Linked DNA regions of Homo sapiens. The protein of the gene in region 1 purifies or fractionates together with the protein of each later gene. This does not show direct contact. Each region holds a gene or a part of one and is shown in the gene's direction. Other genes may lie near its edges.

Evidence for each region. Proteins that work in one complex are often made in the same cells at the same time.
Region 2: the proteins of SLC7A11 (region 1) and TOR1AIP2 purify together in Homo sapiens (affinity purification with mass spectrometry; one large-scale study listed by BioGRID and IntAct). This does not show direct contact.
Region 3: the proteins of SLC7A11 (region 1) and LNPEP purify together in Homo sapiens (affinity purification with mass spectrometry; one large-scale study listed by BioGRID and IntAct). This does not show direct contact.
Region 4: the proteins of SLC7A11 (region 1) and CLSTN3 purify together in Homo sapiens (affinity purification with mass spectrometry; one large-scale study listed by BioGRID and IntAct). This does not show direct contact.

The regions. Positions count from the first base shown.
Region 1 is NC_000004.12:138,218,350-138,221,849, reverse strand, and holds part of SLC7A11 (cystine/glutamate transporter), read left to right. Parts: intron 1-2,484; coding exon 2,485-2,584; intron 2,585-3,500. UniProt on the Homo sapiens protein: Heterodimer with SLC3A2, that functions as an antiporter by mediating the exchange of extracellular anionic L-cystine and intracellular L-glutamate across the cellular plasma membrane.
Region 2 is NC_000001.11:179,850,304-179,853,803, reverse strand, and holds part of TOR1AIP2 (torsin-1A-interacting protein 2), read left to right. Parts: intron 1-992; 5' UTR 993-1,138; coding exon 1,139-1,172; intron 1,173-2,440; coding exon 2,441-2,959; intron 2,960-3,500. UniProt on the Homo sapiens protein: Required for endoplasmic reticulum integrity. Regulates the distribution of TOR1A between the endoplasmic reticulum and the nuclear envelope as well as induces TOR1A, TOR1B and TOR3A ATPase activity.
Region 3 is NC_000005.10:97,023,080-97,026,579, forward strand, and holds part of LNPEP (leucyl-cystinyl aminopeptidase), read left to right. Parts: intron 1-1,441; coding exon 1,442-1,603; intron 1,604-3,500. UniProt on the Homo sapiens protein: Release of an N-terminal amino acid, cleaves before cysteine, leucine as well as other amino acids. Degrades peptide hormones such as oxytocin, vasopressin and angiotensin III, and plays a role in maintaining homeostasis during pregnancy.
Region 4 is NC_000012.12:7,147,371-7,150,870, forward strand, and holds part of CLSTN3 (calsyntenin-3 precursor), read left to right. Parts: intron 1-1,601; coding exon 1,602-1,828; intron 1,829-2,152; coding exon 2,153-2,323; intron 2,324-3,173; coding exon 3,174-3,319; intron 3,320-3,500. UniProt on the Homo sapiens protein: Postsynaptic adhesion molecule that binds to presynaptic neurexins to mediate both excitatory and inhibitory synapse formation.

The DNA.
Region 1 (3,500 bases):
AAGATTATATGCTATCCCTTGAAACTAAGATTTATTTTCTTCTTCTTTTTGGTGTAATGTAAGATACTATAGGTAGCATTATAGACTTTATTCAATTTTTACCAGGTATTTATATATGTATATGAGGAAGGGTTTGGTTGCCCAAATGTTGCTCTATTGCAAATTCCTTGAGAGCAGAGGTCATGATATATCTTGAGGTTTTTTTAGTGGCTAAAATACAGAGACACTTTAATCAATAATCATGATATCAATGCTTAATGTGACAGGCTTATTCAGAGATCTCACACAACAGAGAAATTCCCTGAGAATATTACCGCATTTAATGTAAATTTAACATTTTAGAGACCATTATTAGCAGGTATATTTGCTCGATTGCTGTAAAATTGTGATTTTCTTCATCTCTAACATGATCACACATTTTTCACATTAATCTGAAACTCTAGTAGGAGACTTTGTTAATACAGATTGTGCTTTTATTTCTATTCTAATCATATCCTGAAAGTAGTTGTATGTTATGTATTCACTTATGAGAGTTTGTTGAACTTTCCTTTGAATATTGCCTTTAATCTTCATGAGACCTCTGTTATATAGCCAAAATATTCCTGAATTCTAGAAACAAAATGCCTCTCTTTTGTAATATTCTCAAAATGGCACTTTTGAAGATCTTTGCTTGTGACCCAGTCTTTATAGAATTTGGTTTTTCTTATGGATTATTTGGTGCTGCACTCTAAGAAATATTGTGCCTTTATGCCAAAGAGACCACAGATTATGATAAAAGAATATTCAACAGATGCTTTTATCTGAATTCCACTATTTATATTTTTCTCCTGGAAGGACACAATGATGTTTTAGTAAAATGGGCATTTCTGAATTTATCATGTCATTTAAAAAGTGAGCTATGTTTGGGAATCATTTGAGAGAAAAATTGTTTAGTATATAATTCAACATTCTCCATTTTTGGTCTTCATACTCACACATATTATATTTATATATAAGTTATGCCTGGGCAATGAATGCAGGAAAAACTGAGATTTGACTTGGAAGAGAGAGTGTCTCATACACATCATCCACCCCCTGTCCCCCTTCTGTTTATTTACATGAAGTTTTATTTTAAAACAAAGTCTCACTTCCCATTTGGGTAATCTCATTTGCTATTTTCTTTGGGTAATAGAAACATTTTTTCTGCTTAAGCTTGAATATTGACTGACTAAAGTAAATCTGAATTTCTAACTTTTAAAACTATTCAAAAGATATAAAAGAAAAAGCTCCAATGTGATTCATAAAATAGAGAAAAAGGTGAAGTGTTCAATTCACATGCTGCTGCAAAATTTGTTGAAACCTATTTATTTTAGAGTTCATTATAATATCTTTTCAATATTTCTAGGAAAAAAAACATGTCATTCTCTAGGACAGGGTCACAGAGTGAGTGGACTTTCTCTGTAAAGGACAAGAGAGTAAATATTTTCAATTTTTCAAGCTAGCTGTATGGTCTCAACTCTGCTATTATAGGTTGAAATCAGCCATAGGCAATACTTCATGAATGGGTAATACTTCATGAATGGGCATTTTTAACTTATAGATAAAGAAAACTTTATCTATAAGAAAGGCTTGCAGCCAGACGCAGTGGCTCACACCTGTAATCCTAACACTTTGGGAGGCCGAGGCGGGCGGATCACAAGATCAGGAGTTCAAGACCAGCCTGGCCAACATGGTGAAACCCCATCTCTACTAAAAATATGAAAATTAGTTGGGCATGATGGCGCGCTCCTGTAATCCCAGCTACTCAGGAGGCTGAGGCTGGAGAATCACTTGAACCCAGGAGGCGGAGGTTGCAGTGAGCCAAGATTGTGCCACTGCACTCCAGCCTGGGCCACAGAGTGAGACTCCATCTTGAAAAAAATAAAAAAAGAAAGGCTTGCAGTTTGGGTTGACACACATGGTCTTCAGGATTTTCCAACTTCTCTTCTAGGAGGTAGGCATCTAATGAACAACATGGGATAAACAGAAAGCAGAAAGGTAAATTGTGTAGGAAAGGAGTCCTGGGATTTATTTCCATCTCCTCATTAAGGGTAGAACCTTGGATACCTCTCCGCATTTTCTTGCCAAGCAAAACATTATCTTTTTAAGAATTCTATCTTTTAAGAATTCTATCATATTCATAAAGATTATAATTTACAGAAAACCCTTTAGTCTTCTTTTATGGTCACAATAGAGGCATACTCAAACAGAGGATTATTTTTCAATGCCATTTTCATCTTTGTTATAAATTTATTAAAAGAGAAATATGAAATAGTGTTAATGATCAATATACTTTTGGGACCCCTTCTATAGAATGGGTACAGTATTGATAAAGATGGTAATCAACAGAGAGTAAGAAATCTAGACTTACAACAGTATGTTTCTCCGCACCCCCATGTTTCTGGTTAAGAGTGAATAAGAACCAATTCTTTGAAAAATCCTAAAATCAGTCTATTCTAATTACAGGTCAAACGCAGAACTTTAAAGACGCCTTTTCAGGAAGAGATTCAAGTATTACGCGGTTGCCACTGGCTTTTTATTATGGAATGTATGCATATGCTGGCTGGTAAGTTGATAGCTCCAGATCTGGTGGTTTGCGTAGTTCATTAATCCCATTATGCACTCAGATTAAGTGCCAAGCAAGGTGCCAGGCAAATGTGAATAGCCATAATCCAGTGTGATAGGCTTTACTTGAAATGAGAAATAAGGTATTATCCCCTCCACCAGGCCAATTACTTTGCACATGACAACTAAACATAACAGGTTTCCAGTCAAGGTGACTGCTAGATTTAGCCTGATGTCATAAAAAACAAACAAATGCTGGGTCTTAAGATCCAATAAAAATTACTTATAAGTATGTACCAGTAAGGACATAATAGTGCCGTAAGGTACTAAAGAATAATACTTCGCTTGTCAAAAGGCCTTTCAGCTAAAGCTCCAAGGGTGTTTACAAATAGTGATTAATTGATTTTTTTTTCCAGCTTCTCGTGAGAGAAGTAACTCAGATGTAGAAATAAGTATGACATTCCCAGAAGGTAAATGGTAATCTAAAGGCAGAGAAAGAGAAACCAAGATAATGCAGTCAACTCTTCTAGACAGTCTATTACATTTAAAAGGACCTTACATGTTCCTTAAAATGTCCCCAACATCTGAAAATTTAAAAAAGTGAAGATGATTAAAATCATGATGCCACAGATATATTTCCTTTGATGTATGTCCACCTGTGATACCTACCTTTCTAGTTAAGGCATTAAAACTTTGTATTTGTACCTTATTTGTTCAGATACTTGAAAAACAGTAATCATGTAATCATGGATAAGAGTGGGACTTTCTCTTCAGTAAATTTTATTGACCTTGTAAGATTTAGTTGAGATGATGGTTGCAAGAAAGCCTACAAGGTATTATTTAATTATCAAAATCATTGTAGTAAGATTAAATTTCATTGTTTTGGGATAAATCATGGCAATGTTTATTTTTTAATT
Region 2 (3,500 bases), on another chromosome or scaffold:
TACATTCATTTATTTTTTCATAAGCTTTTAAGTTAAAATATGGAGTTCTTACTATACACTAGGCACCGTGTAGGCATTGGGGATCAAAGTTTTTAATGTGTAAATTTAAATTTTACAAAAGAGTACTGAGAAAAACATAAAGACGGCCAGTTGGCTAGCCTTCCAGCTAGGCTGTCAAAAAACTATAACACTTCACACAGGTTTTTCTTATATATTTTTGTATTTAAGCCTCATAGATATCATTATTCTCATTTTCATAGGGAATAAATATTAAGTAACTTTATTGATCAATTTGTTTTTGACAAAAAAAAGAACTATAAAATATGACTGTTTTTATTGCTTATAAAGTGCCTTTGATTTTGATTCCTTTTGTGTAAACCTTAATAATTTTCTTTGTCTGTCTTTGAGCATTGCATAAAAAGGCATTGTATAAAGGAATATCTGTCTCCATATTTTACAAAAGAATACTTCGAGAAAACCACTTCAAAGTCAGTCCAAATGTGTAGTGGTACACCTCAAAGCAGCCATCTCAGTTTGTGGGAACCTCCTGTGCATTGTTACTTTTTAATATAAGTGAAAGCTCCTGATAGGCAGACTATGAGAAAATTATCTGGGACAGAAATTGAAGACATCCAGGAAATCTGCAGTGATTGTTTCAGCAATGACTTAAATTTCTACTCTTAGATTTATTTTTTATTTTAATTCAAGCTAGTCTGTTGAAGATTCTGGTCACTTGATCTTACTTTTTATACTCTTTCAACTATGCTGGAATATATTAGATTATGAAATTCATGAAAGATTAATAATCTGGAGCTTTTTTCAGTAGTCTAGGATTTGGAATATGATTCTCATGAAAGGAAATTTTCTTCACGAAAAAAGTTTCACAGAGGAAATAGTACTCAAGCTACACATATTTAATAAATAAAGCTGATACTTGCATTTCTCCCTTGTATGGATAAAAAGTCATTTAATTTTTTTTCATTTTGTTTTAGTCACTGTATATATGCCTTATTTCCTGGGTCCATGGGAAGCATGAGTCTGTTGGGACTTGGGACAAGAAGAAAACAAGACATCTTCACAAGGAAAACCAAGTACTAAAAAAAGTATCCTCCCAACTCTGAAGAGATAGAACACAAACATGGCCGACAGTGGACTTAGGGAACCTCAAGAGGGTAAGACTGATTTGTCTGGCACTGAGGTTGCTGCTGTAGGAAACCAGGGGTGTGCAGAGAGAGAAAATCTCTGATGACTAAAATCTGAGGTTTTGAAGTAAAAAAGCTAATTCAGTGGGTTCATTTGTTTTGATTATACTTATTCTTTCAAATTTACTGAATTTTACTATAATGCGAGACCCTAATTATAATATAAGGAAGATAAATGTTTTAGAGACTCCAATAGTAAGGACTTATAGTAATGGAAAAATACAATGCTTCTTTAAAAAATGATGGTAGACAAATCTTTAGAGTTATATATATCCTGTGATGTGCTATATTTAGAAGGTATCTTTCTTCTTCCTCTTCTTCTCCTTTTTTTTTTTTTTATGTTACCCAGGCTGGAGTGCAGTGGCGTGATCTCAGCTCACTGCAACCTCCGCCTCCCGGGCTCGAGTGATTCTCATGCTTCAGCCTCCAGAATAGCTGAGATTACAGGCGCCTGCCACCACACCCAGTGAATTTTTGTATTTTTAGTAGAGACGGGGTTTCACCATGTTGCCAGGCTGGTCTTGAACTCCTGACCTCAGGTGATTCACCTGCCTTGGCCTCCCAAAGTGCTGGGATTACATGCATGAGCCACCACATCTGGCCATTCTTACTTTTATTAAAGAAACAAAGTCTTTTGGAATTTCCCACGTGCTGGGTTTTGCTGATTATATTCTTGAGGCATAATTTAATGTATTCCTGTATCCCTATATTTCTTGGAAACTGGTTGCTCTAGAAACTTACCAGATTTAAGTTTAGTTGTTTGGCAAAAATACTTCCCAAGTGGTCTAGAGTACTTCTTACTGCATTGTATTAGAAAGTAAATGATATCTGTTTGGGTTTCCCTGTTTTCATGATGTGAAGATTGGTCGCTGGGTTCAGCAGTTGTCAGTCTGGCTCATCCACTATAAAAGTCCCTATCAGCCTTTTGCATAAGGTTTTGCTACCATTGATGAGCATTGCCTTTCATTAGGGAAGAGGATATATTTAATATAGCCAAAAGTTTGTTCTGTCATATAATTTGTTTTATATTAGTGTCATTTTATATTTATTAACATGATAAGATTTTTTTTGTTGTTGTTTTAATTGCCTTTAGTGGGAGCCAAGAGAAATAATGTTTAGGAAGTGTCTTGTAAACCATGAAAATCTATGTAAATATTATTATTAAACAGGGACCTTGTTAAAATATAAATTTATGGGGAATTTTTTCCAATAAAAATTATAAACTTTTATCTCAATAGACTCTCAAAAGGATTTGGAAAATGATCCATCAGTAAATTCTCAGGCGCAGGAGACCACAATCATAGCAAGTAATGCTGAAGAAGCTGAGATCCTACACTCTGCCTGTGGTCTTAGCAAAGACCACCAAGAGGTAGAGACAGAAGGTCCAGAAAGTGCAGATACAGGTGATAAATCAGAAAGTCCAGATGAAGCAAATGTGGGGAAACATCCAAAGGATAAAACAGAAGATGAGAACAAGCAGAGTTTTCTGGATGGCGGAAAAGGGCATCACCTCCCTTCAGAAAATCTGGGTAAAGAACCCTTGGATCCAGATCCCAGCCATTCTCCAAGTGACAAGGTAGGAAGAGCAGATGCACACTTAGGGAGCAGCTCTGTGGCCCTCCCTAAGGAAGCGAGTGACGGAACTGGAGCATCTCAGGAACCACCTACTACAGACTCCCAGGAGGCCCAGAGTCCTGGTCATTCCAGTGCAGGGCAAGAGGGTGAGGATACACTGAGGAGGCGACTGCTGGCCCCAGGTAAGAGAACCCCCTGAACTACTCTCCTGTTTTGTACTGCTCTGTTAACTGAGAACACAGCAGAAGTCAGAGGCCTTCTTTCCAGAGAACTTTTGTCATCTTTCATAGGAGTAAGGCCTTTGGGCCTTGCCCAAGCTCACACCAAGCCATGACTGAGTTGATTTTAGAATGAGGTTTCTCATCTAGGCTAGCTCATTCCACTATATTAAGTTGCTTCCTACACATAAACTGCATTTCTAAGCATGTTTTTATTAACTGTTTATATTAATGTGATATGACAAAAAGGGGCATGACTTTTAAAAAATTCGCTTCTGGTTTTTTATTTCTTATGAGAATATTTCGACTTACAATTTTTAAAATCTTTTACTTTTTGGGAAACTAAATGTTACATAAATCAAGAGATGGGTATATTTAAAAATGAGCATTAATGGGACAGTATCCTTAACTCAGTCATGTTTCAGTTTTATAGGACTTTGAGTAAGACAGTTAGTTTCTCTATACGTGGTTTTTTCTGCCTATATGTTAAGAGGAACAAGCATGT
Region 3 (3,500 bases), on another chromosome or scaffold:
CCAGCCCCTGGTAACCACTATTCTACTTCCTGTTTTTGTGAGGTTGACTACACTGTATATCTCATATAAGTAAAGTCATATAGAATTTGCTTTTTTGTGACTGGCTCATTTCATTTACCATAACGTCTTCAAGGTTCTTCCATGTTGTAGCATGCATTAAAATTTCTTTCTTTCTTTCTTTTCTTTTTTTTGGAGATGGAGTCTTGCTCTGTCACCCAGGCTGGAGTGCAGTGGCGCGATCTCAGCTCATTGCAACCTCCACTTCTCGGGTTCCATTGATTCTCCTGCCCCAGTATCCGGAGTAGCTGGGATTACAGGCATCCGCCACCACACCTGGCTAATTTTTGTATATTTAGTAGAGACGGGGTTTCACCATGTTAGCCAGGCTGGTCTTGAACTCCTGACCTCAGAAAATCTGCCCACCTAGGCCTCCCAAAGTGCTGGGATTATAGGCATGAGCCACCATACCTGGCTAAAATTTCTTTCTTTTTAAAGGCTGAATAATTTTCCATTGTATGTATATACCACATTTTGTTTATCCATTCATTCCTGGATAGACCTTTGTGCTGCTTGTACCTTTTAGCTATTGTGAATAATAATGCCATGAACATTGGTGTGCAAATATCTCCTAGAGACCCTGCTTTCAATTCTTTTGGAAATACACCTGGAAGTAGTATTGCTGGATCATATGGTAATTCTAATTTTAATTTTTTGAGGAACTGCCATATTGTTTTCTACAGCAGCTGCACCATCATTCCAATTTCTCTACATCCTTGCCAACACTTGCCATTTTCTGGGTTTTTGATAGCAGCCATCCTAATGGGTGTGAGGTGATAAACAAGTCTCTTAATTTAGAAATAAAACATAGCAGGTAGAGTTAGCAGTTAACAGAAAAGCTTTTGGGGGTAATTAGTTCTCTCCAGCTCCTTACCGTGCATTATGGAGAGAAGATTCAAGCATCAGATGAAGAGTTGGGGTGGAGGATTTGGATAACGTTTTGAGGTCTTTCCCAGCTCTGAGATCTTAATAAAGGCAGTAGACTGTGTTTTCTCCCTGCACCCCATTTACTGCTATAGTTCTACCATGAAACTTATCACACTGAATTGTAATGCATATAGTTATTGCTCTATACTTCGTAGTAGCCTGTGAGTTCTCAGAGGACAGAGGCTCTCATTCCTTTTCCGCTCCCTAGTGTCCAGCCAGTCGCCTGCCTGGTTCTTTGTGAGTACTCTGTGAATATTAAATTGAACTGATGTATCCATAGACACACTACTAGGAAGATAGCAGTCACTGAATTAAACTTTTTCTCAACCCTAAATTGTGTACTCAAACTTGTTATTATTACCAACCCTCACACCAGAAACTCCACCACAGCCAACTCTTCGCCTTTGTATTCAGAATATTTTCTTGTTATTCTCATGTTTGACCACCTCTCTTACAGCCTACCTACTGATGTCATGACAACTGTGTTCAAAGTTGGAGCAAAAACTGACAAAGGCTGGTCATTCCTTTTGGGCAAATACATTTCTATAGGCTCTGAAGCAGAGAAGAACAAAATACTAGAAGCACTTGCCAGCTCAGAGGATGTGCGGAAGCTTTACTGGTATGAAATCACCGAGGAATATGATATACAGAAACCAAAAGAATACAAACACTGTGCTCTTGGTCAGGAGCTCATTTTTGAGGGGATCTCTTTTCCCCACTTCTGTTACAGGCCAGGCCTAAGTTGGACAGTGTGGTGAGGAGACTACAGGTGCTGGGCTTTATCTTTATGGACAAGCAGAAAATCCTTTGCCCAAAAGGGATTACAAGATGTCAGGAGTCACAGCCCCCTCCTACTCCTTGCTCAAAAAGTCTTCCTCCCCTTGGAATGTTGTCTTATACACCACAATTGGTACTCCATAGTTTAGGACCAAGGCATTGCTTTGTGCAAGCTGTCATTTTAAAAATGTAGGCATTTCAGAAAAAAAAAATCACATATTAAACCTTCTAGGTTCTACGTTCATATGAATTTATTTGTCAGACTTTTCCTTTTTAATATGTAGTGATGAAGGCCCAGAAGTAGGAGTGTCATATGGATGAAGGTAGGGCAGTAAGTAGGGCCTCCTGACAGGAAGAACAGGCAGTGGTGGGGTAGAGGAGCTCTACATAGCCAAGAGGAATATAGAGGTATCTGCTGTAGAGAGCACAGGTGTTAGAAGTCGCACTGAGGATAGAAGGAGGCTTCTGGGTCTCATTACTTCTGTTGTATGATTTTGCTCAGATAAATCTTAATAGTGTCCCAGAGATGTCCTCAGTACCTGTCCAGACCCACTTACCAAAAGATACGCTGTAAATAGTCATTTTCTTTAAAGTATTAGCCAGCCTCTGACTTAAGCAAATAGAGAAAAATCACTGTTTTTAAACTATGCTAGTAATACACTAAGAATGCCCATGATAAAGAATTTAAACAGTACCTAAGAATATAGAGTAAAATATGAAAGTATTTCTCATGATCCTTCACTTCCATTCTCGTTTTCTCTGTTAACAACAGTGTCAGTCCTGGTCTTTGTATTCATCTGTGGGAATGGATATTTGTACATATGTACGTACATACATACACACATACCTACATATTTAACTGCATTTTAAAAACCATATTAGGTTTATACCATACCCAGTGTTTTGTGACCATCTTTTTAGTGAATGATCAGTCTATGAGATTTTCCATGTCACTTCATGAAGCCTGCTTTATATATAAAAAAAAACTAAAGTGTTTTATGGGTTCATAATATTCTGTAGTATGGCCCTATCATAATTTATTTAATCCATCACGTTTTGTTGGGCTTTTGTTTTTTTCTCTCCTAAAAATACTGCCACAGTCTTGGAGTGGGGCGTGGTTTCTCACTATAAACAGATAGTATAGCATAGTAGATGAGAACTGCTTTTGTTCAGATGTCGGGCTTTGGTATTTATTACTGTGTGACTGTGGGTCAATTAGATAACCTCAGTTTCTTCAACTATAAAATTGAGTTAGGTAGTATTAATAAATACCTACTTTATAGCATTGTTGTGTCAAGGACTTAGAACATTATTTAGTACATAGTGTCAGTAAATGTTTGCTACGAACATTAATAAGAGTATATTCTGAAATGTATCCTAATTTTCAAATAATTCAAATGACCTAGTTTTTTTTAAGAATAGTAATATAATTAACCTGCCCATTCAAATCAAATAAGGTTTTTACCAGAAAAAAATACCCACCTCCCGAATTGTAATAAATTCTACCAGAACTTATTTCCTAAATGTTTTTACTATTTAAAAACTATTTATTGTCATGTGACAATATAGGTAAATGCCTATTTTATTGGTGAGTTCTTTCTTCATTTAAAAAAAATGACATTTTCAATCTATAGATCAACCGTAGACTAATGCAACAGTTATTTCTCAATTTGCTACACAGCTTTAATTAGGAAACCATACTAATTTTAATTTAAGTTCAGTCATCACTTCTTCATGAA
Region 4 (3,500 bases), on another chromosome or scaffold:
CCTGGGCAACAGAGAGAGACTCTGCCAAAAAAAAAAAAAAAAAAAAAAAAAAAAATCAGTGGACCTGGAAGGAGAAGAATGATTTAAGCCTAGACTCTGGTTTAAGCCTTGATTGTTTCTTTTTCTTTTTCTTTCTTTTCTTTTCTTCTTTTTTTTTTTGAGATAGGGTCTCACTCTGTCGCCCAGGCTGGAGTGCAGTGGCCTGATCTCATCAGCTCACTGCAACCTCTGCCTCCTGGGCTCAAGTGTTCCTTCCACCTCAGCCTCCTGAGTAGCTGGGACTACAAGCATCTACCACCACACCTGGATAATTTTTGTATTTTTTGTAGAGACGGGGTTTCACTATGTTGCCCAGGCTGATCTCGAACTCCTAAGCTCAAGGGATCCTCCCGCCTCAGCCTCCCAAAGTGCCAGGATTTACAGGCATGAGCCATCATGCCCAGCCTGAGCTTTAGGCATTTTACAGCATAGAAATGAGGTTATAATATAATGAAATAATATGGGCCAGGTGCGGTGGCTCACGCCTGTAATCCCAGCACTTTGGGAGGCCGAGACGGACAGATCACCTGAAGTCAGGAGTTCAAGACCAGCCTGGCCAATATGAAGAAATCTCATCTCTACTAAAAATACAAAAATTAGCCGGGTGTGGTGGCATGCGCCCTATAATCCCAGCTACTTGGGAGGCTGAGACAGAGGAATCGCTTGAACCCAGGAGGCAGAGGTTGCAGTGAGCCAAGATCGCACCATTGCACCCTAGCCTGGGCAACAAGAGTGAAACTCCATCAAAAAGAAAGAAAGAAAGAAAGAAAGAAAGAAAGAAAGAAAGAAAGAAAGAAAGAAAGAAATGTGGGAAAATGCTTCATAAACTGGCAAGGGCTATTGATTGTGAGGTGTTGTTATTACTGGTAAAGGTGGGGCTAAATGTGATCCTGGGAGCATCACTGCTGAGCAGCTGTGCTGTTGGTTGGTCTGGCTCAACAGAGTCCTCTAAGGATAGCTTGTCCTGATGCCTGGATCCTCAAGCTTCATGAGACGGTGGATCTAGGTCCAAGGTGGTCAGATGATCTCACCTACCAAAGTGTGTTTCCCCGATATTGAAGGGAATGAAAGACACACCAAAGAGGAGGACATCCTTTGATAGATGTCCACATTCTACTTTTATTGTTGAATAATTTTGGGCGCATATGTGCCGGATAGTATACTGAGTCCATGTACTTTTAAACTGCTGGATAAAGAACTGTGTGTGTATATATACCTGTTTGTCAGTTCAGTTTGCTTTGTTTTTCATTAAAATAGCATCTATAGGTACTCCATAATCCTGGGGTAGGGCATTGATGGTGTGATCACACCCACAGGTTGGGATTACCTGACCTTCTGTCCTCGACATTTTCCTTGGTGACATCCTACCAGGAAAGGATATGTCCCCCTTCAACTGCTGTGGGGGTTGGGATGCAGAGGCATGACCCCCTTTCTTCCCCTGCCCCTTCCTGACATGAGATGCTCTATGATAGAGGTAGCTGGGGCGGGGAGTGAAACAGAATGTGGGTTTTCGGGGAGGAAGTGTTGGGGTCACATGCTGCTTCTCCTGCTTTCTTACATAGGTGCTTCAGCGAAGAGTCCTGCGTCTCCATCCCTGAAGTGGAGGGCTACGTGGTCGTCCTTCAGCCTGACGCCCCCCAGATCCTGCTGAGTGGCACTGCTCATTTTGCCCGCCCAGCTGTGGACTTTGAGGGAACCAACGGCGTCCCTTTGTTCCCTGATCTTCAAATCACCTGCTCCATTTCTCACCAGGTGGAGGCCAAAAAGGATGAGAGTTGGCAGGGCACAGGTAAGGACGACTTCGGGGAGTAACACCATCCAGAGAACCAGCCAGTGTCTGGAGTCAGAGTGTGGGAGAACTCCTGGGGCTGGAAGCAGAAAGCGACTCCATCCTGTGTTTGTTTGACTGAACAACTTACCTTTAAGAAGGAGAGCAAGTGGAAAACACGTGGGTGGAAATGAATTGTTGCATAATGATATTCTTGAAAATGATGCTGACTTCCCTCTCCCTGGCCCTGGAAAGGGAGGGAGAGTGGTGATGAGGGCATGGTTGGGTCTCAGAACCTCCGTGGGCCCTTTGGCTCTGACCCAGACCCTACTATCCCCAACCCAGTGACAGACACACGCATGTCGGATGAGATTGTGCACAACCTGGATGGCTGTGAAATTTCTCTGGTGGGGGATGACCTGGATCCCGAGCGGGAAAGCCTGCTCCTGGACACAACCTCTCTGCAGCAGCGGGGGCTGGAGCTCACCAACACATCTGCCTACCTCACTATTGCTGGTCAGTGGGGCCTGAGGGCCTGTCCTCTGTGTGTGTGTGCCCCTCCCAAAAAGTAAGGGCCTAGGAAGCCCAGAGGGTCCTCCTTCCAGGTCCAGGGATGTGGACAAGTGCCGTTTTGCATTTTCCTAGCCTGGAAGATCCTCTGGCTTTGATTGTCCCTAGGGAAGGTGTGCTGGGTTTAGGCTCCGAATGCTTCTGTCTTCCTGCTCCTCTCCATAGCCTGGCTCACCTCCACTTCTGGTCCCACTCCTGTTTCCATTCAGGCTTCTCACCTTCCTCTCCTCCTTCGGCTCATCTCTGCCCAGCTTTCTAACCCTCTAGCTGTCTGTTTGTTACCGGTCATCTCTGTTGTTCAGCTCACTCATCTCACGTGCACACCAGAGCTTTACAAGAAGTACTCATCTCTTAGTGAATAGTGGGAGTGATGATTTGGTAGTTTCCAAAGGAAGCCAGGAGGGAGAATGGAGAAGATGGAGATAATCAGTTCCCTTCTATTTCCACTCCTTTCCAGGGCTCACTGAGGACTTCTGTATTTTCCTCTTTCTCATATTCCCTCCTGCTTGCCATCTCCCTTTCTGTCTTTCAGGATGTCTTTATCTCCTTCTTTCCATTCCTCCTCAGAACCTACAGAGCAGGAAATGGAGCCTTGATCTCTCCATCCTAGTTAGTCAGAGTGGGCAGGGATGGAGGGGAGCATCCCTCCCTTCGACCTCAGGTCGCACTTCTGCGGAGATGGGGCTGACCTGCTCTACAGCTTGTGTGGCGTCAGCTGGTGGGAGTCCAGGAGAGAGGGTCCTGCCCAGGTCCTGCCTCCACTGGCCCCTGCCCTGAGGTGCTTCCTCATCTCCAGGGGTGGAGAGCATCACTGTGTATGAAGAGATCCTGAGGCAGGCTCGTTATCGGCTGCGACACGGAGCTGCCCTCTACACCAGGAAGTTCCGGCTTTCCTGCTCGGAAATGAATGGCCGTTACTCCAGCAATGAATTCATCGTGGAGGTACCCAGAGAGTCTCCTTCCTTCCACAGTTACCCACCCCCAGAAAGGAGCTGAGGTGGCATGGACTCAAAATGTTAGTTGGTGGGCATGGACATGGCAGCGTGGAGGGCTGCTGGACCTTGCAGTGGGTGGAGGAGAAGGAGATGGGGGCAGTAGTTAGGAGATGGGGCTGGGGTCTAGA